Linked DNA regions of Homo sapiens. The protein of the gene in region 2 purifies or fractionates together with the protein of the main gene of each other region. This does not show direct contact. Each region holds a gene or a part of one and is shown on either strand. Other genes may lie near its edges. The genes, in order: TOM1L2, CUEDC1, SMURF2 and TOM1.

Region 1 (7,019 bases), about 40 Mb from region 2:
CCTGGGTCTAGCTCCCAATGGGCTCTTCTTCCCTTGAACCACAGTCATCTCACCTACTGGCAGCAGCGCTAGACAGAGCTAGGCTAGACAAGCTCAGCATTAGTTGTCTCTGATCTGAGGAAACCTGTAGTTAGCCTTTACTTCATGTCACACATCAATTTCTCCTTTCCTTTCTGCTCAATTTGTTGCCGGTTCCCAACTCCACCAGTAGAAGCTTTCAGGGCAGAGGTGCTCCCGCACAGAGGGCAGGCACCCTGCTGAGCTGACAAGGCTCCAGCTTCCACTCCCTGCAGCTGAACAGCCCCAGCAATTGATTTCCTTGCCATTAGGGAAATTCCTGCTTTTTAGGATGCACCACCGTGCATAGGTGTTATTTCTCTGTCTCTTCTCCAAGGAAATACATGCTAAATTAAGTTTTGTGTTTTTGTTCACGCTCAGCAGCACCATTGAAAGCCAGGGTTTCACCAGCTGTGTCGTGGCAGCAGTTGCGGAAGGAGAGGAACAGAATAGGTTTAGCCAGTGCAATTTGCATGTGCAAGTAGGAGAGCACTGGTCTCGGGGAGAGGACGTGGGCCACTTTGGATTTTCAGATACCATGGCAGCTCTGAGAAATGCTTCCTAACAGGCCTTCTATTATCCCAGGCATGGGCTGATGCCTTTCGAAGCAGTCCTGATCTCACCGGCGTTGTGCACATATATGAGGAGCTGAAGAGGAAAGGGGTTGAATTTCCCATGGCAGACTTGGACGCTCTGTCTCCCATACACACACCACAGCGGGTAAGCTTCCAGCTGGCACTTTCTAGAAAGACCTACTGCAGAACGGGTGAGCCAAGCTGCTGCAGCCACCCTTCTGCTGCTGCCTTTGAATTATTCAGCTTGTCATCATGCTTTCTTAAAGCTCGGGGGCATTCCTTTTTAATAACAAGGGGCATGCAGGAGTGAGACAGCTGGTTGACTGGTGATTAAGTGGCAGCAGTGTCTGTGGAAGAATATAATAAAGGGATCAGTTCAGGGTTTTCATGGAAATGGCTACTTGGGCGGAGCCATCCTGTGAGGGTCATTAGCACCTGCTTTTCAGAGGCCCCTAGAATCTGGTGTGGGAATCCTGTTGTCCCTCAGAGCACCATAGCACCTCAGGGCTTGATGTCACTCTTGGGTCAAAAAGTAGCTTTCTGTTTTTTCAATTGTACCAAGTCAAATGGATCTAAAATTTATTTTGAGCTGTGAGTATTCAGCATCAATCCAGAATTGATTCTGGATTCAATCCTTGATTCCATCAGCCTTGGGATCAAAGCCCTGGGAAGGTCCCTTTAGGGGCATCCCACCAAAGCTTTTGCAGTGCCAACAGTAACTTGAGCACCGTGGAGGGGGCAGCTTGGCACTTCAGGGTTAAAAGCATGTAGGTCATGCCTCATGGTTTCTCAAGGAAGCTAGTCCCTCTACTGGCTGGGAATCAACTCCACTCCTAGCCTGGGGGAGAGCCAGGAAAGCACCAGGGTCTGGGAGAGGCACCTCATCCCAGTACACTTCACCTTGCCTGCCCCCACTGCCCATCTCTGAGAAGGATAGCACACCTGTGCACATCTCTCGTAGGAACACGACTTAATTTTAATGTGCAAGAGGTCATCTGAGATACCCAAAGGGCAAGCATGAGGGATTGCCCTTTCTCTTTTTTTTGAGTCGGAGTCTTGCTGTGTCGCCCAGGCTGGAGTGCACTGGCACAATCTTGGCTCACTGCACGCTCCGCCTTCTGGGTTCACGCCATTCTCCTGCCTCAGCCTCCTGAGTAGCTGGGACTACAGGTGACCGCCACCATGCCTGGCTAATTTTTTGTATTTTTAGTAGAGACAGGGTTTCATTGTGTTAGCCAGGATGGTCTCTATCTCCTGACCTTGTGATCCACCCGCCTCGTCCTCCCAAAGTGCTGAGATTACAGGCGTAAGCCACCGCACCTGGCCCAGGGGATTGCCCTTTCTGGAGGCTGTTTTCATCATGATCCCTCCAGACCACGCGCTATGCTTTGTGAAATCAACATAACCTGTTTCATTCTTCTAATAATGACAGAGAGCAGTGTTGTTGTTCCTATAATTACAAAAAACATTTGGTAAATTGCATAATTACTATTTATATTAGTCTACTTGTAAAGACCAAAAAAGTAATTCTTATGGTACCAAGTAAAGATCTGTGATTAGCAAAACTTAATAACCGCCCTCCCTCCACTTGGATCCCGAGGTGGTCTTAATAATAGGAACCATGACCAGAGGGCTCACAGAGCACTCTCGGTGCTGCCTTTTGGAGTTGCTTTCATTGGTCTGCCACACATTCCTTGAGAGGTAAGTAGAGGGAGGAGCCATTGGCAGCCCCACTTCCCAGATGGAGAGCCTGGGCTCAGTGGGGTTCTGTGAACCTCACCCGGGCAGCAGTGGAGCAGGGCCTTGAGCCTTTCGTGGGCAGCCTTGGGGAAGTGCTGCATGGGGTGGGGTAGGTACCAGGTCCAGCTATGCAGGCAGCCCAGGTAAACAGAGGACTTTGTTGTTGCCATGCCAGAGTGTCCCTGAAGTGGATCCAGCTGCGACCATGCCCAGGTCCCAATCACAGCAGAGGACAAGTGCTGGTTCCTATTCCTCGCCGCCTCCTGCTCCCTACTCCGCACCGCAGGCCCCAGCTCTGAGTGTGACTGGCCCCATCACAGCCAATTCAGAACAGGTACTTGCATACTTCGGGGCCATAGGCAAGCCAGCTGACTATCCTTTTTCATCTTTCTGGGAGACACTTACAAAGGCCTCCCAAGCCAGGTATTGTGCTGGGTGTTAGGGACACAGAGATGGAAGGGCTCAATCCCCAGGGGAGAGAGATGCTGAGGAAGTCATGATGGATTGTGGTCAGGCTGTGGTGGGGAGCAGAACCAAGGGCTCAGAGTTGTGAGCCCAGGGTTGAGTGGTGCCTGGGAGGCACCGGGGACCTGACATGCAGAGGGTCCTGACACAGGAGTTGGGCTTTGTCAGGTGAGACCGCATGCTCAGCAATGACATTTAAATGCAGAGATGCAGACGCTGCTCTCTCGGAGCAGCAGGTGGCTTGATTGGAGAGCAGGCGCATATGTAGGGCCCAGATCTGGGAGGAAACCATGGCAGAATGTGAGGCCAAAAGCATAGACGTGCAGCTGAGTTGTGACGGGCTTGTCTATCATGCAGAGGCTTAGATCTATCCCATAAAAAAAGTCAGCCATCAGAGGCCTGTGACCTGATCAGGGAGGCCCTCCTGAAGCACAAGAAGCCTGCTTTTATCCCAAACACTCCCCACCCTCCCGGGTTACTTCCTGATAAACTAATGCAGTTTTAACCCCACACTGGATTTTTTAGATGAATTGGGGAGTGCTCTTTAGAAGAATCCATAGAACTTCAATTAGTTACAATTTGAGAATTGGTCAGACTTGGGGGAAAAAAAAACTCTCCAATGTTTATATTTACCAAATCCTTATTTACTATTTGCGACAATGTCATGACTGTGGAACCTCACTGAAGCAGAGGGGTCAAGCAATGTGTGTGTAGGGATAGCAATGTGTGTGTAGGGATGGCAGTGTTGTGTCGTGTTCCTCACACTTCCCTGCTAGCTCTGAGCAGGGAGTACGGTGAGAGCAGGAGGAGTGAACTTGAAGCCCCCAGGGCCTGGGTGTGAGCCCCCAGCTCTGCTGCTCACTCTAGGCTTCAGTCAGGACATTTAACCCCGGTCTCCCATCAGTAGAACAAGTGATTTGTTACCCCACCAGGCAGCTGTGGGCTTGACAGGCAGATGGAAGAGGTCCTCATTGTGGCTACCCAAGTGCTGTGGGAAAGAAGGTCTCTGGCTTTTGGCCCTGCTTCTATGGGCAGAACTGTGCCCTTCCTGCTCTGAGGGAAGGCAGAAAATGTTTGAAGTTGGACAGTTACTGAGCCCCTTCACCGACTCAAAGTGTGGGAGGTGCTTGGGAAGGCCCTCCTAGTAGCCAGAAGATGCTGGGTCTGCAGGGTCTGGGCATAGGTAGCACAGGAGCCCTGAGGCATGTTGCCCCTTGGAGAGCAGAATGCAAGCAGAGGTAGGCAGGTCAGCACCCAGCCTGGCCAAGAGGACCCAGGGCTTCAGAGTCTACTGGGTGGCTGCCCATAGCCTTCCTGGGCCTTCCTAGCCAGAAACCTCTTCTCTCTACCAAGACTTTGAAGAAAACCCCTGGATCATCCACCAGGCAGAGCCAGAGGCTAACAAGAGCCTCTCAGGACCCAGACCATCTCCCTGGTAGACCATTGATTGAGGTCTCCTGTCCCTGTCTCTGTGCTGAGGGTATAAAGCTCAACCCAGCTGAGTTCCTGCCCTAAGAAGCTAAAGGTCTGCTGAGAGAGCCCACCCACACAGGAGAGGCTGCTACAGCTGCAATAGTGGAAGATGGCACAGCGAGTGGGAACCTGAGGAGGCGGGAGTGGTTGCTTCTACCTCAGGATGGGGTGGGGAGAGTCAGAAAAGGCTTCACTGGGGAGAGAAGTTGTCACTTAAGCTGGGTCACAGTGCAGGAAGAATGACATTACAGTTCCTCTCTCTGGACCTTTGAGCAGGAACAAGGGCCGTATGTGTGTAGTAGAGAGCATACCTGCATGCCAGGCGCCGCATGGGAAACTCACAGCAGCCTGGTGAGGTTAGTGCCACCTTTCTGTAGGTGAGGAAACGAAGGCTCAGAGAGGCTCAGGTCCGGCTCTGGATGTTGCTGCTGAGTCTTCCAGGGCTCCCTCCAGTGTCCTGTGCAGTTCTTGACCTCTGTCCAGCGTTATTTGGTCTCTTGTCACTGAGTGATGGGACCAGTAGCCACCTCTATGCAGATTCTTCTATGATATTTCACTGTGGGCAAGGAAGGTCCCTGTGGTTTCTGCAGATCCTTCGAGGGGGTTGAGGGAGTGAAGGGGCAGATCTGAGGCACAGGACTGAGGGCAAGGGGAGAAAGTGTATGATGTCTCTGTTGCTGGAGAGGAGCCTTGGGCCTTGGCCCAGGTCCAGGCTTTGGGATCGCTGATGGGCAACTTGGGTATTTTTCAAGGGGCTGTGTTACCATGTAGGGAGCTGGGTGGGGAAGGTGTCTCCCCTGTCGTCTTCCCCTGTTCTCTCATTCTTGCCGCAGCAGAAAAGTGCTATTGACACTGCCCAGCCTCTCAGAGGGATCCTAGTGTTTAGATGTAAAACTCCTAGGAGCAGAGTCTATAACTCAGAGCTTTGTAGAATAGGATCTCAGCTCTGAAGGGATCTCAGAGCTCCTGCCCTCCTGCACTTGGATTTTAAAGAGCAGGAACGGAAGCCCTGAGAGGTTCAGCTTCTACTCAAGTTCCCGTGGTGGGAGAGCCGAGACGGAGAGCCAGCTTGGTGCACTCCTGACACGGAGCCCTTCACTACGTGGTACTGCTTTCGTGTCACAGTCAGAGAGGCACAACAGACTGTTGGTGGCAGGGCCCATTCAGCTCTCTCAGAGCTGACAGGCAGGCCAGAGGGAGATGAGAAGGTGGCCTCTGCAGTGTGCACTCAGAAAGGCAACCCAGATCTCCCAGTGAGAAGGATTGTCACTAGACTAGGAGCAAGCTGATTCTGATATTGCAAGTGCAGGCTGACTGACCTTTCCTTCCTGCTTTCCTTCCTCGTGGCCCCCACCAGATTGCCAGGCTGCGGAGTGAACTGGACGTCGTTCGAGGAAACACAAAAGTCATGTCTGAGATGTTAACAGAAATGGTCCCTGGACAGGAGGATTCATCTGATCTGGAGTTGCTGCAGGTGAGTCATCTTTCAGAAGCACTTGGCCTGTGGTGGCAGCTCTTCCACCGTACACTGTTGGAGGATCCCACCCGGGGACACAGCGGCAAGGCGGGACAGGTCCAGTGGCCCTGTTGTTGATAGTCCATGTGAGCACACATGCAGCCTCACGTTGCCTACGGACAGGCAGAGGCCAGTACCACTGTCTGTCTTTTTTATTTTCCTTAATAACATTTTTTTCCTGATTATAAAATGCCAGTTGTAGAATACATGCTCACAGAAAGAAAAAGAAAGCACAGAAAAGAAAATAACTTTCTTTGACCCAAGCATCTGTAAATAACCACTGTAGGTGCTTTGATGTATTTTCTTTCTGACTTTTTTGTAGGTTTATTTTAAATGTAGTTGAGCTTGTACTATTTCTGTATTTTGGTCCCTCAACATCACATTTTGCAGGAGGGCCTGTTCAACCTTGACTGTGCACAGGAGCCCTTGTAGTGGCACCTCACCCCCAAGGTGTCCTGAGACTGAGATGAAGTGTGATGCTCCCATGCTTTTCCCTAACACTGAGGATTCCCAGGCATATTGTGGTTTGCCATTGCAAACTGGCCTCCCCGCCTCTGGACAGCCCATGGATCTGGGGGCATGGCAGAATGGGGTCCAGGAGTGGGCGGCCTGCAGTCTACCCCTGAAACCAGGGTCAAGGCCCCCACCTCAGGCCTGTTTCCCAGGGCAGCCAGGTCCAGAGCCAGTGCCCAGATCTCCACCACACCCAGCCTCAGATGACCCTGGCATTTGCAGAAAATGTCAGTGGTACTGCCCTTAGAAGCAGTGACCTTCTGGAGGGTGGAAGAAGGATGCTGTGAACTGCAAGGCCCCACACACTTTTCAATGGGAGGCAAGATGCTTGAGGGAACAGGTCAGGAGCCAGACTGATTTAGCAACCTGGCATGAGTTTCTCATGATACACCTGCTGCTGCTGCTGATACTGCCATTTGTGTCTGGCCCTCCGTTGTCAGTCTTGGTCCCCAAGTGCTACACCTTCTACCCTGCTGCTGGCACATGCTTGCCGCCTGTGAAGGCCCTGTCCTGGTCCCAAGTTGCTGCTTATTGTGCCCCCTTCCTACTCCAAAGCCATCGGCTCTTATGGGGGTGAGGGTGGGTGGAGACCTGTTCCAGGCCTGACACAAAACACAGTCCTAGGGGCACAGAGGTGCATGAGCTGTGGTCCCTGGAGCTTGCAGCTTTTTGCAGGAAAT
Region 2 (7,647 bases):
TCAGCCTCATTCTCACAGTAGATAATGCCATATGCTCCAGCGATCTGAGCTTCATACAGCCACAGACTTAGCAAAAGGCTTCCATCACCTTCACATTCAGTCTGTGGAAACAGCAAGTGTTCTTGGCTGGTTTTGTTTGTTTGTTTGAGATTGAGTCTCGCTCTGTCACCCAGGCTGGAGTCAAGCACGATCTTGGCTCACTGCAACCTCCACCTCCCAGGTTCAAGCAATTTTCCTGCCTCAGCCTCCCAGGTAGCTGGGACCACAGGCGCCTGCCACCACGCCTGGCTAATTTTTGTATTTTTAGTAGAAATAGGGTTTTACCATGTTGGCCAGGCTGGTCTCGAACTCCTGGCCTCAAGTGATTCACCCGCCTCGGCCTCCCAAAGTGCTGGGACTACAGATGTGAGCCATGGTGACTGCCCTGTTCTTGGCTGGTTCTAGCCCGGGAGTGGGTGGGTGGCATGAGGACAGAAAATGGGAAGAGCTGGAATGGAAGTTAAGGGCAGCCTGGGAAGGGCCTCTCTCAGGAGTTTAAATTTCATTCTCCAAGCAATGGGAAGTCATCCACCTTGTTCAGCAGTGCAGAGACATCACCGGTTTGTACATTAGAAAAGTAACTGCTGGCACTGAAAAGGATGGATTGAAAGGCAGGGCCCTGGCAGCAGGGCCTGAGCCAGGGCAGAGGAGAGGGGGCAGGTTCCAGAGAAACTCAGAAGCAGAAAGCCCTGAGTTTACTGAGGGGGTTGAATGTACGAGGGGAGGAAGGCAGCATGTAACATCTGCAGCTTGAGCGAATGGGAGGTGCTGCTTATCCAGGACAGAGAATTCTTGCAAAGGATGTGGAGATGATGGGCTCCAGGCTCCCCGCACTGAAGGTGCAGTGGCTGTGGGACAGCTTGTCCAATGGCAGTAACACATGCCAGTCAGGGGCTTGAGAGAGGGAGTGGGGTGCTCGGACAGGTCATCAGCACACTCCACTAGGTGCAGAGGGGGTAATGTTATTAATAAAACTTGGCTGGGCACGGTGGTCCACGCCTGTAATCCCAGCACTTTGGGAGGCTGAGGTGGGCAGATCACCTGAGGTTGGGAGTTTGAGACCAGCCTGACCAACATGGAGAAACCCCGTCTCTACGAAAAATACAAAATTAGCTGGGCGTGGTGGTGCATGCCTGTAATCCCAGCTACTCGGGAGGCTGAGGCAGGAGAATCGCTTGAATCTGGGAGGTGGAGGTTGCAGTGAGCCAAGATCATGCCATTGCACTCCAGCCTGGGCAACAAGAGCGAAACTACGTCTCAAAAACAAAACAAAACAAAACAAACAGACAACAACCAAAAAAAAAAAAAAAAAAAATAGCCGGGTGCGGTGGCTCATGCCTGTAATTCCAGCACTTTGGTAGGCCATGGCGGGCGGAGGTCGGGAGTTTGAGACCAGCCTGGCCAACATGGTAAAACCTCATTTCTACTAAAAATAAAAAAATTAGCTGGGCATGGTGGCGTGCACCTGTAGTTCTAGCTACTCGGGAGGCTGAGTTGGAAGAATCGCTTGAACCTGGGAGGCAGAGGTTGCCGTGAGCCGAGATCGCGCCACTGTACTCCAAGCTGTACAACAAGAGCGAGACTCTGTCTTAAAAAAAAAAAAAAAAAAAAAAATATATATATATATATATATATATATATATATATATGCAGTCTGCAAGTGGAGCCATGAGGGGTTGGTACCTGCCCCACTCTATTCCCCCTGTGAGAACATCTGGAAAGAGGGGTTGGTTAGAAAGTTAGAGGACTCAGCCTTGGAGAAACCCCTGGGGCAGGCAGAGCTGAAGAAATGAGGGAATGGATAGAAAGACGCAGAGGCTAGGAAGCCATGAGGGTGGGAATGGTTTCAAGGAGGCGTTAGCAACATCCAGGGCTCCAATGGAGTGAAGGAATGGGATAGGGAGGAGGCCCATGGGTTGAAACAATGAGGAGCCTAAGGTTGCCTCCCTTGGAAAGGCATCTTCCCCTAGAAAGATGCCGGTGCCTCCCTGTAAAAATCACCTTCCCCTAGGATGAAGGGGAAGAAAGTCAGATTGTAGGAAGTTGAGGATTGAATAGGGCTTGAAGAAGCAGAGAGTGGGTCTGGTTGCTTCTTAGGGGAGGCCTACTGATGAATGCAGAAGAGAGAAACAGGGCAATGACTTGAGGGCAGGGCAGGGTTGGGGCCAGGTTCCCTTAGAAGGGGGTATCCTGAAGTGTTTGTAGTTTTGAAGCAGAGGGGAGGAGAAAGAAGAACTAACAGAGTTTCCTGAAGCACATAGGAGGTTGGGCTGGAAAGCAAAAGGGACATCTCTGGAAGAGCAGAGACAATAGGGCCTGAACCAGGCAGAAGTGGAGGAGTGAGGCGGTGAGAGAAGGAGAAATGAACAGGATCTGATAACCAGTGGAGGGCCAGGGAAGCTGCACAGGAGACAGAGGCTTCCAGCCTCTGAGCCAGAGGTGGATTCAGGAGAGTAGGAGGAGGTGGCTTAGGTAGGGAAGCGGTCTCAGTCGCCTTTAGCCTCCTTGAGTTTTAGGTGTCTGGGAGACTCACAGGTGGCCCTCTGTAGGCGGCTGGTGTGAGGGGCTGGAGCCCTGGGGGCTCAGAGGCAGTGGTGGGAGTGGGTGGAGGTGTCTGGGGGTGGGGAAGTTGTGAGAGGCAGGGAAGGGGTCTGAGAAAAAGCTTCCAGAAGGACAGACCCAAAAGGAGGAGTATGTTAGCAAAGCCCAAGAAAAGTGTGCTTCAAGGAAGAGTGTCCATTAGAGCAACTGGTTTTATTAATGACTATAATAATAATGTATTTAAAAATTTTACTAGCCGGGCGTGGTGGCACCCACCTGTAACCCCAGCTACTCAGGAGGCGTAGGCAGGAGAATTGCTTGAACCTGGGAGGCGGAGGTTGCAGTGAGTTGAGATCGTGCCACTGCACTCCAGCCTGGGTGACAGAGCGAAACTCCGTCTCAAAAAAAAAAAAATTATGAGCAATCCATAGGCGAGTGCAAATGGAAATCTCCAGGTTTGCAGATGCATTTTTCTGCTCCTGAAATGCCAAGGTGACAGGAATGAACTGCAGAGGGATCTTGCAAGTAAGCAGGAAAGTGACAAATGAACTGCACTATGGGTAAGTGTAAGGTAATACACTTGATAACATAATCTAGACTATATTGGCCAGGCGGACAAATCCTGAGCTCTCAGTTACAACCTGGGAAAGGAGCCAGGAGTCAGTATAGAGGCATGGGTCTGTCCCTTCGGATTAAGAATCTTTAACCTGGGGCCTGAAGACCATCTTCTGGGATTTCAAGCACCCTGCCTCCCCCGGAAATTGAATGCACCAGGGAGTGAAGTGTGGGGAGAGAGGAGCAGGAGAGAGGAGATCCTCAGAGGGGTTTGGAAACCCAGTCCTGGAGTTCCGTTCAACATGCTAACCTAACGTTGGGCCTCCCCGAGGAGGGTGTGGTTCTGAGGTTTCTCCCCCTCCCAGTTTCCCACCTTGCTGAAGAAACTTGCCCTTGACATGCAAATGATGGAAACACATTGGTGTCTGGGGCACTTTGGTTTGTGGTTTTTACCATCAGCTGTCTCTGAGGCTGAGCGTGTCGATCTGTCTCAGCAAGGCTAGCAAATTGCAAGCGCTCAGAGGAGGGGAGAGGGGGGCTATTCCTGGGGTTCTGGGCCCAGATGGGCAAATGGGTCTGTAAGGCAGACTTTTCCAGGAGGAGGGTGCAGACCCTTTGCAAGTTGTTTGGGGACAGAGCTTAGTTTGCATCTGGCCTTCTTCACCCTCCTCAGATCCCCTAGGTAGCAGGGTGCTTGGTGGTCACCACCTGACCTAGGCTACCTACTCCCAAATTGGAGTCTGAAATGAAAGCACGTGGGAAAAGTATAGCAAAGGTCAGTTTCCCATTTATTAAACAAGTTCTTCCGTGGAAAATCTTCCCAGGGCTCAGCAGCCCTTGAAGTGATCAGGGATGCTGGGGAGGTTGGGGGAGGAGAAAATGGGAGATGGCAGGTGGTATCTGTCGGTGTGGACGAGTGATAGCTTTGATTTGCTCCCCCTTCCCACCATCTCCTGTGTCCTCAGCATTTGATTTGGTTTCCTTTCCGGGGCCCTAATTCCAGGGAGGTGCCCCTCCTCCACACCTGTGTCCCAAGCCCCAGCTGTGCGTCCTCACCCTGGGTTCCTGGCACTGACCTGGAACCTGTCGGGCAGCCCTGCTCTTAGCTCCCCGCGGAGTCTCGGAGGTCTCAGGTCTCCTCCGCCCACCCTCTCCGCAGCTGGGAGGGGCAGGATGCCCCGCACCCCGCTCTGCGCGGGAGGTCGAGGCACCCCGCTCACGCCCTCCTGCCCGCAAGCTAGGGAGTCACTGCGGCCGGGGAGGGAGGTACACGGAGGGCATTTTTCCAGCCTTCACTGGGTGCTCCCCTCTCCACCCCCGGCAACCATGTAGGTTTCCGGACCCCCAGGTCCGCTTCCCTCCTCTCTGGAAAGGGGTCGGCCATAGGGAAAGGGCCCGGGGGCGCCGCAGCCGGGCCCCCGCCCCGCCCCGCCCGCAGCCCCGCTCCTCCCCGCGCGGCCCCACTTGTGGCCCTGCCGGCAGCCGCGCAGGGACAGCTGCATTTCTCGCCGCCCGCCGCTAGGAAGCCGGCCTCGCCTCACTTTCTCCGCCTCCCCGCGCCCCAGCCGCGCCGCCGCCGCCGAGCCTGGCCCCGCCGCCACCGCTGCGGATTGCAGCCCCTCCCCCGCCCGGCCCGCGGCCCGGCCCCTGCGGCCCGCGCGGAGCGGACGCGCGTGGCGCTGCCCGGTAAGACCCCCGCGCTCCCGCGGCTCCCGCCCGGCCCCGGGCGCGGTCCTCGCCGGCGCCCCGCGCGCAATCCCGGCCGCGGCCCCGGCCCAGCGGCCCCACCTTCTCGGGACCCGTTGCCCAGGCGCCGCCGGGAGGGCCGGGCCGTCGCGAGTTTGATTCCCGGGGCTGTCGGCGCGGCTCCCCGGGAGCTCCGCGTGCGGCAGGTCCCCGCCCGCCCTTCCTTCCCGAGCCCCCACCTCATCCCGGGCCCCGGGCGCGGGGGGCGTGCGGGCATCTGGGGGGCCGGGAGCGGGGCGCGCGATTAGACCGGGGGGCGCGGGCCAGCGCCGCAGGGAAGGGAGACGAGGCCTCCCGGAGCCGGCTTCGCCCGAGTCCCCTCTCCCGCCGCTCCCCCTTTTGTGTGGGCGCCCCTCCCCGCAGTGCCCGGGCCTGGGGGCGCAGGCTGGGCGGCGACGGCAGGCGGGGGCGCCTGCTGGGAGCCGAGCGCCTTTCAGGGGGAGGGGAGCTTCGCTTCCTGCCCCCCGCCGATGTCACAGGTCGGCTCAGCCTTTTTTGGTCCCTCCCGGTCCCCTGGGAGCTGTATCTCCCGTCAGCTCGGCCAGGGAAAGTTGGGAATGCGCTGTCCCCGCCCCTGCTCGCCCGCCCCGCCGGCTCCTGTGCCCCAGGCTCTGAGCTCCAAGGGGGGCTGGTGTCAGCGTTTATTCATTCCTCCCTCTTCCTTTTCTCGGTCGCGTGGTCGCCTTACACCCAGCACTGCCCTGCCCATTTCTTTTCCCCTTAAAAAAAGTTTTAGCTCTAAGAAACGTACACTGAAATTAAATTCCTGAGACGGAATGTGTTTTAAGGGGAGGGAGGGTTTAGATTTTCCTTTTTTTGGTGGAGTAGTGGAGTAGAAGATGAGGGGACTCCCTGGGAGTTTAGAAACAAGATGCCCTGGAGGCGATAGAGGATACAAGAAGACCATCCACCGTGCTCCCCACCTGATCCGCAGTCAGCGTCTTGTAGCGAGAGGAATGAGCCTTCCCTGGGTGATCCCGCAGCACCTGAGCCACCTGGCCCAGGAGAAAGGACTCAGGGAGATGTACTGGGCCTTTCACCCCTTTTCTTTATAGCCAGCTGTGCCTGAAGGAGGTGAGGGACCCCAGGAATTCTCTCACGGAGGAAGTCATCTCACCATGTGGTTGGGCCCCTGCTGGATCAAGTGTGAAGCTGGGTCCTCTCTGTTGTTGGGGGTCAGTGCCACTGGTACCTCAGTTTGAATATGGTGCCATCTCTGGGATGGAGAGGTGCTGCTGGGAGAAACCTGGCTCGGGTCTCCAGGAAGCTGGAGCGTGTGCAGCAGGGCTGGGTGTGAAACCCGCTGTCCACTTTCTGCAGCTGGAAGGGCCAGGACAAGGGAAACAGGATACTGCTACCGACCTGGGCACATCCTTGAATAGAAGAGAGACCCTGGACAGCGAGGATGGCCCAGGGATGTTGATATGACTAGGGCTGTATCCCCAGCTCCTGGGCCAGGCCAACTAGGGCCAGAGGTTGGAGTCATGGGCCCCTTTGAGAATCTGGTGAAAGCTCTAACTCCTCTCCTTCCAAAATGCATGTGTGTAGGGAGACACCTGTATTCAACACCAGACGGTTAATATACCCCCTTGGAACCAGGACCTCCATTGAGACCTCTGCCCTAGAGTTACTGGTCTGACCTGGGCCATCAGAACAGTTGTCACCTTTTTGGCTGGTCAGTGAATAATCCCAGGGTTCAAAGAGCAGACTGCTTCTAAGGTCTTTTCTCATGACCTCCCTATGCAACTTTGGGCTTGTGGCCATGGAGACCTGGAGTGTCTGGACAGATCCCAGCTCCCTACAGCTAGCTAGAGGATGGGGGCAGATGAGGTGGCCCTTTTCCAGGGGCTCATTTTGCTGTCTGTGTGGTGGGAAGGCCCTGGGCACTGGACTAGGCCCACTGGTCTATTGAATTAGAGGTAAATAAAGGGATTTGGGTGGAGGTGGATATTCTGGTGTTTCAGCTGGGTGTGAGATCCAGGCCTTTAAGAGCTCCAGCTTGTTCTTGGGGAAATGGGGTTGAGGTGCTTTAGTAGAGAGTGTTAAGTGTGAAAGACGACTCTTAAGGAGGTCTTGGGGCAGAATTGTCCAAGGCTATGATCTGGGTGTTGTCGGTTCCTTAGATCCCTTTGGACTCTTGAAGGCAAGTGGGGGCCAGAGGGCTGCTGTCACTATCCCCAGTGCAGCCCCAGGCCAGAGGAGGCCTGGCCTGCCTTTCCTTTCTTGGCTCACTGGGTCCTGGGCTGCTGCATAGGTGTTTGTGGCATCTACACTTGCTAGGGATCTGGAAGAGCTTTAGGACGATCTGCCATTTGTGACTTCTCTACCTTGGGACTGAGAAGACTTCCTTAGGCTCAAGTCCCCCACAGAGAGCTGTAGGGGATTTTTCTTTGTTTAACTAGAGAGCACAGTGTTTGGCATATGGCAGCACTCACACTGGTATTCTTCCTTTAGAGCTTCCTACATTTGCTCTGGTAATAAGCAGCAGAGGCAGGAGTATTCTAGAGCCTTGGGGCACAGGAAGCTGGGTGTCTGACAGGGGTCACCTCTGACTATCCAAGGTGAGCTGGAGGAGGTGGTGCTTCTGTGTTGCTGGCTCTTGCACTTACAGGAAGCAAGAGCTATAAAGGGCATTGGAGGCCGGATGCGGTGGCTCATGCCTGTAATCCCACCACTCTGGGAGGCCGAGGGGGGTGGATCACCTGAGGTCAGGAGTTTAAGACTAGTCTGGCCAACATGGTGAAACCCCGTCTCTACTAAAAATAC
Region 3 (7,941 bases), 6.7 Mb from region 2:
CAGGCTGGTCTCGAACTCCTGACCTCAAATGATCCGCCCGCCTCAGCCTCCCAAAAGTGCTGGAATTACAGGCATGAGCCACTGTGCCTGGCCTATCTCTGGTATTTTTAGTACGATGTCAAGAACTTCATATATTTTTTGGATCACTTTAATTGTAAGGTCGTATCCAGACTGATGAAATGCTCTTGGAGGTAACTATCCTGAGAAGCAACTTCACTGATGCATTAAAAGCAGTGACTGGCATGGAATAAGGATTAAAGTATATTAATCCAAAACATGTAAAATTGCATTAATGTTATAACAACCTAAAGCAAAACTAATAAATCACATAAAAAACTCTCACGTTATTTTCCTTAGTAGTTTACATTGTGCTAGATACTTTTGCATGTACATGCTTACAACTTTTCTTCTGTTTTTAAACTTTGCATTACATATAAATTCTACCATATTATATGATCCTCATAAAAATCGTCGGTTAAATGGCTGCATAAAAAACCATGCGGTTGGCCGGGCGCAGGGGCTCACGCCTGTAATCCTAGCACTTTGGGAGGCCGAGGTGGGCGGATCATGAAATCAAGAGATTGAGACCATCTTGGCCAACATGGTGAAACCCTGTCTCTACTAAAAACACAAAAAATTAGCTGGGCATTGTGGCGCGCGCCTGTAGTCCCAGCTACTCGGAGGCTGAGGTAGGAGAATTGCTTGAACCTGGGAGGCGGAGGTTGCAGTGAGCCGAGATGGCGCCACTGCACTCCAGCCTGGCGACAGAGGGAGACTCCGTCTCAAAAAACAAACAACAACAACAACAACAACAACAAAACCCCAAAAGACCATGCAGTTTACGGATCATTATGCTGTTCCCTCATTTCTTTTTTGTTATTAATGGAATTTAGCAAAGAACATCTTCTGTACTATTACTTATTTTTCAAGAATAGGGCCGGGCGCGGTGGCTCACGCCTGTTATCCTAGCACTTTGGGACACCTAGGCAGGCGGATCACCTGAGGTCAAGAGTTTGAGACCAGCCTGGCCAACATGGTGAAACCCCACCTCTACTAAAAATACAAACATTAGCTGGGGGTGGTGGCAGGTGCCTATAATCCCAGCTACTCCGGAGGCTGAGGCAGGAGAATCACGTGAACTTGGAAGGCAGAGGTTGCAATGAGCCAAGGTCGCACCACTGCACTCCAGCCTGGGTGACAGAGTGAGACTCCAACTCAAAAAATAAAATAAAATAAAATAAAATAAAATAAAATAAAAATGGTGGCTGAATGAATCTCATAGTAATATTTTGATATGTAAAGAATGGTCCTGCTGGGCACAGTGGCTCACGCCTGTAATCCCAGCACTTTGGGAGGCCGAGGAGGGTGGATCACAAGGTCAGGAGTTCGAGACCAGCCTGACCAGCATGGGGAAACCCCCGTCTCTACTAAAAAAAAAAAAAAAAATACAAAAATTAGCCAGGTGTGGTGGTGGGTGCCTGTAATCCCAGCTACTCAGGAGGCTGCGGCAGGAGAATCACTTGAACCCAGGAGGTGGAGGTTGCAGTGAGCCGAGATTGCACCACTGCACTCCAGCCTGGGCAACAGAGTGAGACTCCGTCTAAAAAAAAAAAAAGAATGGTTCTGTTTTCATGTCCAATGCTATTTTCCTTTCCTCAAAGACTTTTACACCTGAATGTATATAATTGATTTTACCTAAGATTCCCATCCCTTAATTTTCCGTCTTATCTTTCCCAAGTTCCGGCTATTAATTTGGTAATTCCCTACATGTTGTCATTATAATGTATATATATCCCCCTTTGGGGACATAAACATATCCCCAAGGGAAGAGAAACACATAAACTTTTTTGTTTTTTTAAACTTTCTAACCCAATCGTCTCTGAAATCTGAGCCTGGACTAGATGAGGCCACTCACTTAAGAGAGGCCTTCAAAATGACTTTCCTATTATGAGTATTCTGTTTTTGAGTGCATTTGTTTTTTGAGGTAGGGTCTTACTCTGTTGCCCAGGCTGGAGTGCAATGGCATAATCATGGCTCACTGCAGCCTCAACCTCCTGGGCTCCAGTGATCCTCCCACCTTGGTCTCCCGAAGTGTGGGGATTACAGGTGTTAGCCACCACGCTCTGCCCCTGTTCTATGTTTTCATTTATTTTACTTCATTTTAAACATTTAGTTACTTTTAAATAAATGTTTACAGTCAATGTCAATATTTAAGATGGCAAGGAAAACAATAAAATGAACATCCATGTACCTGCTTAAAAAAATCATTACCAGTACATTGATTTTCTTTTTATTTTTGTGATAGTCTCAGTATGCTGCCCAGGATGGAATGCAGTGGCACTGGAATGCAGTGGTGTGATCACGGCTCACTGCAACCTTGACCTCCACAGGCTCAGGTGATCCTATCTCAGCCTCCTGAGTAGCTGGGCCTATAGGTGCAGGCCACCACTCCTGGCTAATGTTTTGTAGATACGGGGTTTTGCCATGTTGCCCAGGCTGGTTTCAAACTCCTGGGCTCAAGTGACTCCTCTGCCTCGGCCTCCCAAAGTGCTAGGATTACAGGCATGAGTCACCATGCCCAGCCCTTGAATGGTTTTAGTGTTATTCTTATCTGAATATTTGTTTTAAACAACAGGATTTAACCTTACAAGAAAGCCTAAATACAAACCTCTGCACGTTAACCCTATATACATTTTTCTATGCTGTCACTTACATTTTTTAATTTACTGCTTTCAACTTCAAAACAAGCAGTCTCCCCCAGGTCTCCCATGACGTTCTGAAATCCTAACTTCTATTACCTAATACAAGGCTACAAATTATGTTAGTTGGGTGGTTGGGAACAAAGCGTGCTGTAAAAATAAGGCAAATGTGTATGTGTACATTAGTTTGCTAAGTTTTTTGCCACTGTCTGCCCTCTTAAATTGTGGTAGCAGCTATTGTTCACATTGATTTCTATATATTTGTAGTACAAGGAAGCATTTCTAAAGGACCTTGTTCATTGCTTTGCACAAAATGGCCACTTAATATTTGTTGAATGAATTGCTGGCACTATCTCTGGTATTTTAATTTTTATTTATTTATGTATTTATTTTTGATATGGAGTCTCGCTCTGTCACCCAGGCTGAAGTGCAGTGGCGTGATCTCGGCTCACTGCAACCTCCCGTGTTCAAGCGATTCTCTTGCCTCAGCCTCCCTAATTGCTGGGACCACAGGCATGCGCCACCAGGCCCGGCTAATTTTTTTGTATTTTTTTTTAGTACAGACGGGGTTTCACCATGTTGGCCAGGCTGGTCTCAAACTCCTGACCTCAAATGATCCGCCCACCTCGGCCTCCCAAAGTGTTGGAATTACAGGCGTGAGCCACTGTGCCCGGCCTATCTGTGGTATTTTTAGTGTGATGTCTAGAACTTCATATACTTTTTTGGATTACTTTTAATTGTAGGGCTGTATCCAAACTGATGAAATGTTCTCGCAGGTAACTATCTGGAGAAGTGAGTTCACTGATGTATTAAAAGAAATGACTGGCATGGAATAAGGATTAAAATATATTAATCCAAAACATTTAAAATTGCATTAATGTTATAATAGCCTAAAGCAAAACTAACGAATCACATAAAAAATCCCCCACGCTATTGTCCTTAGTAGTTTACATTGTGCTAGATACTTTCGCATGTATATGCATACAACTTCTATTCTGTTTTTAAACTTTGCATTACATATACATTCTTCCATATTATATGATCTTCATAAAAATAGTTACATGGCTGCATAAAAAACCATGCGGTTCCTGGACTATTATGCTATTCCCTCATTCCCCTTTTGTTATTAATGGAATATAGCAAAGAACATCTTCTGTACGATTATTTGTCAAGAATAGGGCCGGTGCGGTGGCTCAGGTCTGTAATCCCAGCACTTTGGGAGGCCGAGGCGGGCTGATCGCTTGAGGTCAGGAGTTCGTGACCAGCCTGGGCAACATGGGAAAACCTAAACGTCTCTACTAAACATGTCTCTACTAAAAATACAAAAATTAGTGGGGCGTAGTGGTGCACACTGTGGTCTCAGCTACTCCAGAGGCTCAGGTGGGAGGATCACCTGAGCCCCGGAAGTTGAGACTGCAGTGAGCCGTGTTCGCACCACTGCACTCCAGCCTGGGCGACAGAGGGAGACCCTGTCTAAAAACAAAAAAATAAAAAATAAATTTCTAGCAGTACAGTTACAATGTCAAAGGATAAGGTACACATTTTTTAAAAACTTTTCTCTTTCTCCTCCTGAGATAACGAAATACAGTAGCGTATGAACAACTCTTCATACATTACTCTCCAAGGTTTATCTTGTTAATCCTTTAAGACGTATCATCTCCCCATCCTTGGCTGCACCTGAAAAGAGCGGGAGTCGGCAGGTAACCTGATCTCCTCCACCAGGTGAGTCCCGGATGGAGGTGTCAACTACAAGACCAGGAGCAGAGCATTCCTGGGGTTTTGCTGGAACCATCGGCGTGGGAATGCTTTCTCTTCCCTCGCCCGAAAGACGCCAAGTTCCCGGCAGGCAGCGGACTCGGTTCTAACCTTCCTCGCCCCAGCCTCTCGGAGCGCCCTGCACGCAGTGGGCGTCTAATAAAATGCAGTTGGCCCTGCTTGGACAAAAGTTCTCCCTTAAGTGGCCCGGACAGTAAACCCCTCCAGGTGCCACAGAGCTGCCGCGCCCGCCGCCGCTTTGCTCCCTGCCTGCTCCCTCCCAGCGTTCCGCGTGGGACCCTCGGCGGCAGCTCACACCCTCCCTGACTGCCGGTGCCCGCCAGGGCACCCTGCGCGCGCCCGCCGGCCCCGCCCCGGCCCCGCCCCGCCCCGCCGGCCCCGCCTCCCGTCTCCTCCCCGCCCCCCGGAGCCGACGAGTGGCGGCGGCGGCCCCAGGTCCCGGGTCCCTCAGACAAGAGGGCGGGTGGAGGAGGAAGCGGCCGAGCCCAGAGTTCTGCTCCGGCGCCCCCGAGCACCGCCCGCTTCAGCCGACCAGCCCCGTCGGCTACTGGGCCTCGCCGAGACGAGAGGAGGGAAAGGCCTCGGCGGCCGCGAGGAGGCGGCGGGGGCGCGGGCGGAGGCGGCGCGGGCGGCCGCGGCTGCCGCTTTGTTGTGCGGCCCGGGCCGAGGAAGGAGAAGTGGGAGGAGGGGGGAGCTCGGCGTCCCGCTCCCTCCGCGGCTCATGGCGACGACTCTCGGCACATCCGGGACCCTCCGGCCGTGGCGGCCGAGGCGCCGGCTGCTCGGGCCCCAGCCCCGGCCGCTGTGGTGACTCCGCCGCGCCTCGCCGTCGCCCCCGTGCCGCCCGCCGCCCCCGCCGCCCCCGCCGCCGGGGACATGTCTAACCCCGGAGGCCGGAGGAACGGGCCCGTCAAGCTGCGCCTGACAGGTGAGGGGGGGCGGCGGGCCGGGCTGGGCAGCCGCGGGGTGGGCGAGCTGGCGGGGGGTGCCTGTGGCCTTGGGAAGGGCCAGGGTCGCGATCAATGATGAGTTGGGGGTCGGAGGAATGGGAAGGCCTAGTTCAGGGAGAGTAATTGGAAAACCACTTGCTCTGGTTTGGACATTGTTTAAAAAGCCGAGGATGACTCGGGGCGGGGGGTGGTGTTTTGTGGAGGGGAGAATACACCGGTTCGCATCGCAGGCGGATTTCAGGTCGGAAAGTCTTGGTCAAGGAGCCAGACGCTGCCTCCCGGGGCTCGGGGAACAGCCCCTGGGCTACCGCCCAGGTGAGATCGTGAAGGGGATGAAGAGCTCCCGTGGCGAGGATTATTGAATCCGGTTGCTGACTGCGCGCAGTAAACACTCCTTAAAGATGGAGCGCTTAACGGGAGGGTGTGCGTGTGTGTTCCCGGGTTGTTACCTTGCACACACCCAGTTATGCCCGCATGAAAAACCTTTACTCCCCGCCGCCGGCCACCGCTGCCCGGGCCACACACCTTAAACTCATGTCTCTGAGGTGAGGAGACAGGTTGACTTTTCCGGTGTGCCTGTCTGATCCGACGGCTTGGGCTCATTGTACACTGTGTTTTGGAAGTGTCTGATTGTAGGGTGGCATGTTTGGGGTTGTTCCTTTTAGGCCGCAGAACTTGTGTCTAACTTCTAACGCCAGACCTGCTTTAAAAACACACTTTTTTGGGGGGGGTGCATTGCTAAGTATGTGCTCATACAAACTTTCGAGCAAACTTTCTGTTACTCTCCCCACCCTCCCCATTCCTTTTTCGAAATGGAAAAGAATGTCCGGAGGGGTTGCCAGATAGAAGACTACACTTACAAAGTGTTTATGATTCCAGGTGCATGAAATCTTTAACATTACAGGTACGTTTTGCTTACAGTGCCATTTTTGGTATTCTTACATGGACATGCCACCCCCGTTTTAGGAGAACTTTTATTTGGTTTGTAAAGGAATTGGAATCACGGCGTTATCCTACCTTCACCATTTACCCCTGATAAATTGTCCACGTTTGTATTCGGGTGAGTGGTGAGAAAGATAATTTTCCGTAGAGGATTTGTGTGTGCGTGCACGTGTACGGATAAACTGTAATTATGTTTGCCCACACTAGACTTTGAGATTTATTTGGACTAATTTTGTAGTTAAATGCCTGTGTGTCACATCCCAGTCCACTGGCTGAACTTGCTGGATGAAAACTTGCAGTGAATTTGGTATTTGAGAATTTAGCTTGAATGTATGTTGGCTGCAATTTAAATAATATATTACTTTCATGGCAGTTTTCCTTTCCCTAGGGAAAATTGCAGGGAATCATTAACTGAGTGATTCTTAATGGAAAACCTGGATTGGAGGATACTTGTATTCCACCCCCTCCCCCCTCATTCAGTGTCCTTACATTGGGAGGAGTCAGTGGAAACCTTTATAGGGGATCTTTGTTGCTTTAGAGTTTATCTGTTGCTGTTGCTGTCTGTAGTCAGTGATCGTGGAAAGAACATGTGATCCCAGGTGTGCAGAAAGCATCAGAAATAGGCTGTTTCCATTTACCCTCCTCTGGGCTATGTAGAGAAAATGAGGGAAAAAATTGGGTTTTTGATTTTCTGCAGATAAGGTTAGTTGAGGTTTTTAGTATGACTTAATAGATCTTAAAGTGTTTATCTGTGGTTTCCGTACTGCCTATGATACATTATAAGAATTTATAATTAAAGTTTATTAAGAGGAAAGATTATGCTTATATTTTAGGGGAAGGGGGAATATTGAACTACATTTATAGTGATTTTGTTTCAGGTTTTTCTGAGGAATTTTAAATACCCTGTGTCCTCTTAATAGTAAAAACAGTTTGAGGTACTCTGAGTTTCTTACAACTATTTGTCTCTGAATAGTTTTCTCTTAAAATTTGACAAATATTAAAAACATTGTCCTTCCTTCTTTGGTTACAGTGGAGTCTCTTCTGTTTTGCCAGGAAAGTTAACATATTTTTTCTTCCATTTTTGTTCATCATTTATAAATTAGATGGTATAGATTTTAGCAAATAGATCTCAAGAGCTGGATTCAATTAGCAGCTTTTTAGGACATAAACATTAAAGGGTTAGATGGAAAAGATTGTTTTGACTGACTGGATAAATGACAGGGCTGTGTTTGATGTGCGTCCAGGAATTGGTCTGGAGCTGGTGCCCAACTTCTCAGTCCATCTTGAGAAGCCAAATAAAATATTTAACCTAGGCCTCATTTTGTTTAAAAAAAAAAAAAAAAAAAAAGTTGATTCTTTGTGAAGACCTTAAGAAATGTTTGGCATACCTTTAGACTAAGTGTTTAACAGTTCATTTAGATCTGGGTTGCCTAATAGAGGAAAAAAAATCACTTAAAAAAAGACAGATCCCACAGTGAATTTATATTTGGTTTACAATACACTTGGGCTATAAGGTGTTTTAAAATTATTGTTCTTTGCTTTAAGTTAATACCATATTAGTATTTTAAATTTAT
Region 4 (7,019 bases), on a different chromosome or scaffold from region 2:
GTTGGTGCTATGGGCGTGTCACCGGAGAGTATGGGCGGGGCGGGCAGAGGGGCAGCATGCTGGCCAGAGTCCTCTTGCTGGCTGGAGTCAGTGCCCACAGAATCCTGTCCTGATTGTGTCTCTGAGTTGAACACGGTCTAGTGGGAGGAAAACAGGATCAGTGAGGGCTCCTGGGAACATCAAGAGCCCAGGAAGTCAGGGGCCAGCCTGGTGATGTCTCTGGGGATGAGTCCTGCCTCCCTTCCCTTGGTTCCCGGTACGGCAGTTCTCTCACCCTCTGGGGTGTGTGGATGGGTGACAGCATGTCCAGGTCAGTCATGGGGAACTCCAGGCCTTTCCTCCGCAGGTCCTCATAGATGGTGACCACACCTGTCAGATCGGGCGAGCTGCGGAACGCGTCAGCCCAGGACTGAGAGGGGACAAGGGGACACAGCCGGTAACCACAGCTCACCTGTGAGCCTGCCCACCTGGCACTCAGACAGAGAACAGACATTCTTTCCCTGCTTTTTTTTTTTTTTTAACTACATCTGCCCTGCCCACTCCACAGCAAAGCACGCAGTTGGCAAGCCTCCCTCCCCACAGAACATCCCACCAGCCGACAACCGAGACGCCCCGAAATGAGAAGCGGAGCCTGGGACAAACACGATGGCCTCGACTCTCCACTGGGCAGGAAGCTCCTGCACTGACAGCTCTTCCTGGCCGTGCCCTGCCCTGTCCTGGCACTCACCTGGATGAGGTTGAGCACTTTGTCATGCACGATGGTGGGTGGGTTGTTCTTGGGCAGGATGGTCCTCACCAGCACACTCTCCACGAAGTCCTGGCTGGCCACCAGCACGTGGAAGCGGTGCCCGCAGTTCTTGACACAGGTTTCTAAGACCTGGAGGGCCGAGAGGTGCCGTCGAGCACCTTGGTCAGAGGAGAGGAGGTGCTCAGAACCCCCACCCTCGTGGCTCCTCCTGTGTCCCAGAGAGGAGGCCCGGGAGAGGAGATGGGACTTCCTGGAGTGAGACCCTTGAATGTGGAGGACTGGGACAATGCCAGGACTGGGGGACTTGTTTACTGGAGGGCACGGCCTAGGGTGGGCAGAGGTATGGTGTGTGGGCTGGACTTCCTTCCCTGACTGGCGTCAGTGCACGCAGAATCCCAATGCTGTCTCTGAGCTAAACATGGTCTAGAGAGAAGGGGCTCTCCAAGAGGAAATCAAGGAGCATCTGAGATGTCAATCGACTGGTGAGCCTGTGGCCCAGGGAAAAGGCACTGAACTTCCCTCCCCACTCTCCACTTCCCACTGCAGGAATTGCCTTTGCTTTTTGCTTAAGCCAATTCACCTGGATATAAATGCTGCTTGTGGAGGAGGGTGGGACAGCATTTATATCTTCCCCAGCCAAACCCATGCTGACGGCTAGGAGGCCCACGTGTGTCTGGCCGCCCTGAGATCTGGGCTGGTTCAGTGGTGTGGGCAAGACTGTTCTCAGCCACTGGTATTTATTTTACATTCATTTGCCAGAGCACCAAAGTGCCGAGCAGCACCCAACTCAGTCAGCCGGCCTCCCTGCCCCCGCGGAGGCCTGGGTTTACTGAGCTTCAATGTCACCCACAGGTCCTTTGGCCCAGGCTCTCCCTGCCAGTGGTTCTGGAGTGATGTAAGCGTCTGTTCCCATGCTGGGGGATTGGGGAGAACCTTTCCAAATGGCCTCTTGCCATTCTGCATCCGCCTGCAGTGTAGACAGGACAGTGCGTTGCCTACAGACCTTTCCAGCTCTCAAATGAGGAGCTCAGAGGAGGCTGGGAGTCCTGCTGGGTCTGAGGGGAGGTGACTTTCAGTGGACCGTAGTCCTGCCACAGGACAGACAGATGGGGCACTCACTGTGAGAGCCAGCATCACCTCGTGGAAGTTCTTATTCCCCACGATTCTCTTCTTTACTGCTCGGAGGGCATCTTTGGGACTAAGGAGGACAAGAAAAAGGGTGGGCTTAGGAATAGAGCCCCCTTACCTAACACCAGAGACCCTGGAGAGTTGGAACAGTTCTTATTGGCCCATCCTCCCTGTGCCCCACCTGTTTTGTGTATCCAGCCAGGTTCTGATCACATCAGAATCTTCCTAGCCCATTGCTTAGCAGGGACTCACAACCTGTGGCCCCTGGACCTCCAGCAGCAGAGTCACTTTGAGAAAAGATGAGAGCGTTTTGTTAAAAGTGCAGAACCTGGCCGGGCGCGGTGGCTCATGCCTGTAATCCCAGGACTTTGGGAGGCTGAGGCAGGTGGATCACTTGAGGCCAGGAGTTCAAGACCAGCCTGGCCAACATGGTGAAACCCTGTCTCTACTAAAAATACAAAAATTTGCCGGGCGTGGTGGTATGACCCTGTAATCCCAGCTACTTGGGAGGTTGAGGCGGGAGAATCGCTTGAACCCAGGAGGCAGAGGTTGCAGTGAGCCGAGATTACGCCACTGTACTCCAGCCTGGGCAACAGAGTGAGAGCCGAGATTGCGCCACTGTACTCCAGCCTGGGCGACAGAGTGAGACCCTGTCTCAAAAAAACAAAGGACATTCAAAAAAAAAAAGCAGAACCCTAGGTCCCCACCCTAGACCACCTGAACCAAATTCTCAGGGAGTGGGGCCCCTGAATCTGAATGCTTCTCATGCTCCCCAAGGGTTTCTTATGCATGCTCAAGTTTAAGAACAAATAACCTGGAGGCATAATGTTTTCATTACAAAAATAGAGATGGGGTCTTGCTATGTTGCCCAGGCTGGTCTCAAACTCCTGGGCTCAAATGATTCTCCCACCTCGGCCTCCCAATATGTTGTGATTACAGGCATGAGTCCCTGAGCCCAGCTAGCATAGTGTTCTGATGCCCCGTCCTGGCCAGCTGCTCTATCTGTCCATTTACCCTTCCATTCAAGTTTTTTTTTTTTTTCCTTCTGAGACAGAGTCTCACTCTGTCGCCCAGGCTGGAGTGCAGTGGTGCAATCACAGCTCGCTGTAGCCCGGAACTCCTGGGCTCAAGTGATCCTCCTGCCTCAGCCTCCCAAAACGCTGAGACTACCAGTGTGAGCCACCATGTCTGGCCCATTCAACTCTTATTAAGCACCCAATATGTATGTAGCACCATGCTAGGTGCTGGGGACACAGTGGCAAACAAGACCATATGGCCCTGCCTCCTCCCCACCTTGCGGGGAGATCCAAAGAAGAGCAAGGAATAAGCAGGTCCTGGAAAAAGAGCAGAGGTGAGGATGGGGGTGGTCAGAAAAGACCTCCGAGGGGGTGGTCTTGTAGTTGGGCCTTGAAAGATGGGAAGGACCACCTGGGGGGAGTGGGGGCAGAGCAGTTTGGGTCAAGGTCAGAGCCTGGACCAAGGTCTTGGGTGCAGAGGAGCTTGATGCCTTGGAGGAACTAAGAGGAGGCCACACTGAGTGTGGGGGAGGTCGGGGAGGGCTGAAGAAGCCTAGGGGTCACGGTGTTGGGAGGCCCCTGGAAGCTGGGGTGCCAGCCTGCTCTCCCTGTCCCCTCTGTGATTCCCACCATCCTCCACCCTCGGCCCTATACAGGTATACTCAGTGCTGCCCTGACTGCTCTTGTCTAAAAGCCTTTGTGCAGGGCCCCCACTTGCACCCTGAAGGCTCCTGACCTCCACATCCATGAGGTGAAGCCTCAGCTAAAATCCACCCCTTCCACAACACTTTCCCAGGTCCTCCAGTCTCCCTGGCCTGTTCTGCCATGCCACATTGAACTGGGGGCCCACCCTGGGTAGAGAAGAAGCTTGCTAGAGGGCAGGGATGGTGTTCTCTTTGGACAGCTTCCCTTCCTAGAGCCCATCACACTACTGAAGCACAAGTAACATTTCTCAGCCTGGCCAGTGGCCACTGGGACCCATCCGGCTGTCTGCCTGGCTGTCAGTGCTGACCCCATCCAGGACTAAGGCAGGAGAGCCTGGAACCCTGGCACTGGTTCTCAGCAGGAGTGAAGGCAGAGGCAAGGCTTCCTAGGGACAGAGCCTGCCTGGGGGCTAGAGCTATGGAGGCGGTCAGGCCTGCGGTGGAAGGGACACGGTGGGGAAAGGGATGGTGGCCCACCAAGGGGGGTCCTGGCCCAGAAGCCTGAGAGCAGTTTCCAACCCTTGCCTCCCTGGGCAGCCCCTCGCCCGTCCCTGGCTCCTGGTCTTGGCCTGGCCACTGACCCACGGGCTACTTCAGCGCTTTATAGTGACTTCTTTCCACCTCTTCTAGGGTGGCCTAGACACAAGGGAATCAGAATCATTCCCTGGCATGTTCCGCCATGCGCCACTGACCTGGGGGCCCACCCTGGGAGAGAAGAAGCCTCCTAGAGCGCAGGGACAGCGTCCTTGTTGGACGCCTTCTCTCCCTAGAGGGAAGCACTGGGAATCGGAAGTTCTGGCCTTGCCACTGCTGTGGGCCCATGATGTCCGGTACTCTGCTGGGAGCACAAAGTGTATGACAAGGAGGCCACAACCCAGTGGGGGAGACACTTTAGCAACGAGGCTAAGTTTAGGTGCCATGCTTGGTGAGGTCAAGGGTCATGCCTGCCTTTGATCACTGCTGGGTCCCTAGTGCCTCCTGTGTTGCCTGGAACACACAAAGTGCTCAAATAAATAGCAATGCACCTGACCGACGCCGAGCCTGTTCCTCCCATGTTTATAAGGGACATGGGGGCTTGCTGTCCCCAAGGATACTGCAGTGACTTGCAGCTGCGACGTCCATGAAGCTCCCAGGCCTGTCTAGAGGCTTGGTGAGGTTTTCTGCCTCCTGCTTTCTTTCTTCTGACCTCTGCCCACCACTCCTTCCCTCACCCTCACTCTCATGAGTCCTTGGCAAGATCAGGGAGCAGGGCTGAGGAAGACACCGGCAGGTTCCTGGCAGCCACTGCCCTCTCCTGACTGGGCCTTGACTGTGTGACTCAGATGCCCACAGCCTCCCTCCAGCTCAGAGCTGGGCACTCCCTGCCCTCCACCTGCATCCAGCCTGCGCCTCTCCACGCAAAGCCCTCCCGGGCTGAGAGGAACCCTGCACTGGCCGCGGGAGAGCTGGATGATCCCAGTGAGAACTGGAGAGGGAAAGGAGGGTCCACACTGATTTCTCAGGATGGAGGCCTCGTCTGGCAGCACTTCCTGCTGCCCACGGCTCCCACACCTCTGCCCAGCCTTCGCTGGGTTTTCCTGAGAGGACAGGGACCCTCGCATCCCCTTTCTGCTCCCTCCAGGGACTCGGGCTTATTGCTGGAAGGATCTAACAGAGCACCTTCGAGGACAAAGACCTAGAGAGGTAAAGTGACTTCCGAAGGTCACACGGCTGGTCAGTGACAACGAGTCAGACATTGGAGGCCAAGACCCCAATCCTTCCCCCACACCATGTGCCTTGGCAGGGCTCCTTGGCACTGAGCAAGACGATACCGTGACCCCAACACCAGAAACGCCCGGCAAACGCCAGTGCTGTTCAGGCTCACGGTTCAGCTTCACTTTCCCTGCCATCCTTGTGATCTCCCTTACCCTCCAGGCTGGTTTCAAATCTTAAGGAAATGGAAGTCTGTTTTTGCTCGCAGAAAAGCCGGAGTCTCTCTAGTACACACTCCCGCCTGCAGAATGCAGATGGCGCTTGGGGTCAACTTCTGATTAAGAGTCTCCAGCTTGCCTCATCCTAGGCAGATGCTGCACACAAGGCTGGGCTTCCAGATCCGTGTGGAATCTGGGCTGCCACTAAGAGAGGCGGGGTGGGGTGGCAGCCCCCAGGGGCCAGCTGTGAATTCCTACCTTGGATGGGGCTCAGGTACTAGGGGCTCAGATGGCCTCTGCAGCCAAGCGGGTTGGGTCAGACTTGGTGGCTATGGCAGCAATGGGGCTGGGGCAGGGGCTCCCTGGAAGGGTGCAGGAGTGTGCTGCGTGGTGGGATGGCCGTCTCTGCCCCCAACCTCTCCTTGGGGGGCCCTTACCCTTCCTCCGTCTCGTTGATGATGTCGCAGATCTCCATGTTGAGGGCCCAGTCCTCGCTCTGCAGGGAGCCATCTGTGGCTTTCTCTGAGAAGAAACCAGGAGTCATAAAGTCATGAGGGGGTCCTGAATGGGTAAACTCAAACCGTGGGTGGGAGAGGAGGGGGGTGCAGGGCCGGATGAGATGGGGAGGAGGAAGATGACAGACACTTCCTGGGCACAGGGCCTGGCCCTGTGTGAGACTGCTCTATACACATTGTCCCATCGTCACTAGATTCTTGTAGCCACTGAGGCCGGAGTACCTCTGCTCTTCAATGGATGAGGAAACCATGACTCTGAGTGCACCAAAGGGATGCACCAGAGGGGAATCTAGGTGGGCCTCCGTGTGCTTATTCCTGACATGACAATATGGAGACAGTGCTTTGCTTCATTTCTGTAGATAAGATGTTCTCCCTTGACTTTAGAATTATCTTTTGAGCTGGGCGCGGTGGCTCACGCCTGTAATCCCAGCACTTTGGGAGGCTGAGGTGGGTGGATCACCTGAGGTCAGGAGTTGAGACCAGCCTGACCAACATGGTGAAGCCCCGTCTTTACTAACTACAAAAAAGTAGCTGGGCATGGTGGCACATGCCTGTAATCCTGGCTACTTGGGAGGCTGAGGCAGGAGAATCGTTTGATCCCAGGAGGCGGAGGTTGCAAAGAGATTGAGCCATCACACTCCAGCCTGGACAACGAGAGCGAAACTCCATCTCCAAAACAAACAAACAAACAAGCAAAAAAGAATTATCTTTTGAGTTGGTAACCATTCACAGGATACAAAATGTAAAAGTTCTCAAGTGGTATACAATGGAGCTAGGTAAATCTATCTCTGTCCCCTGCCCCAGCCCCCTCTTCCTAGAGGCATCCCCTGTAACCAGGTTCCTCTAGAATCTCACAGAGAGCTTCTTTACCTAGGAAGCAAACGCTCCATTACTAACAGGTCACCTGGCCCTCCTGTACCCTTCTGAGGCACCCACAGAAGGGACCGATGCCGAGCCACCCAGCAGAACTACCCCAAAGAGAGGTGATGATTCATGCA

What was found.
Region 1: the proteins of CUEDC1 (region 2) and TOM1L2 purify together in Homo sapiens (co-immunoprecipitation; 3 studies listed by BioGRID and IntAct, with this or other methods). This does not show direct contact.
Region 3: the proteins of CUEDC1 (region 2) and SMURF2 purify together in Homo sapiens (co-immunoprecipitation; 3 studies listed by BioGRID and IntAct, with this or other methods). This does not show direct contact.
Region 4: the proteins of CUEDC1 (region 2) and TOM1 purify together in Homo sapiens (co-immunoprecipitation; 3 studies listed by BioGRID and IntAct, with this or other methods). This does not show direct contact.

The regions. Positions count from the first base shown.
Region 1 is NC_000017.11:17,878,392-17,885,410, reverse strand, and holds part of TOM1L2 (TOM1-like protein 2), read left to right. Parts: intron 1-642; coding exon 643-777; intron 778-2,547; coding exon 2,548-2,706; intron 2,707-5,667; coding exon 5,668-5,784; intron 5,785-7,019. UniProt on the Homo sapiens protein: Acts as a MYO6/Myosin VI adapter protein that targets myosin VI to endocytic structures. May also play a role in recruiting clathrin to endosomes. May regulate growth factor-induced mitogenic signaling.
Region 2 is NC_000017.11:57,952,399-57,960,045, reverse strand, and holds the start of CUEDC1 (CUE domain-containing protein 1), read left to right. Parts: upstream 1-4,633; 5' UTR 4,634-4,821; intron 4,822-7,647.
Region 3 is NC_000017.11:64,659,291-64,667,231, reverse strand, and holds the start of SMURF2 (E3 ubiquitin-protein ligase SMURF2), read left to right. Parts: upstream 1-4,924; 5' UTR 4,925-5,351; coding exon 5,352-5,403; intron 5,404-7,941. UniProt on the Homo sapiens protein: E3 ubiquitin-protein ligase which accepts ubiquitin from an E2 ubiquitin-conjugating enzyme in the form of a thioester and then directly transfers the ubiquitin to targeted substrates.
Region 4 is NC_000022.11:35,316,886-35,323,904, reverse strand, and holds part of TOM1 (target of Myb1 membrane trafficking protein), read right to left. Parts: intron 6,029-7,019; coding exon 5,944-6,028; intron 2,164-5,943; exon of another isoform or gene 2,058-2,163; intron 1,947-2,057; coding exon 1,868-1,946; intron 907-1,867; exon of another isoform or gene 878-906; coding exon 728-877; intron 410-727; coding exon 275-409; intron 138-274; coding exon 1-137.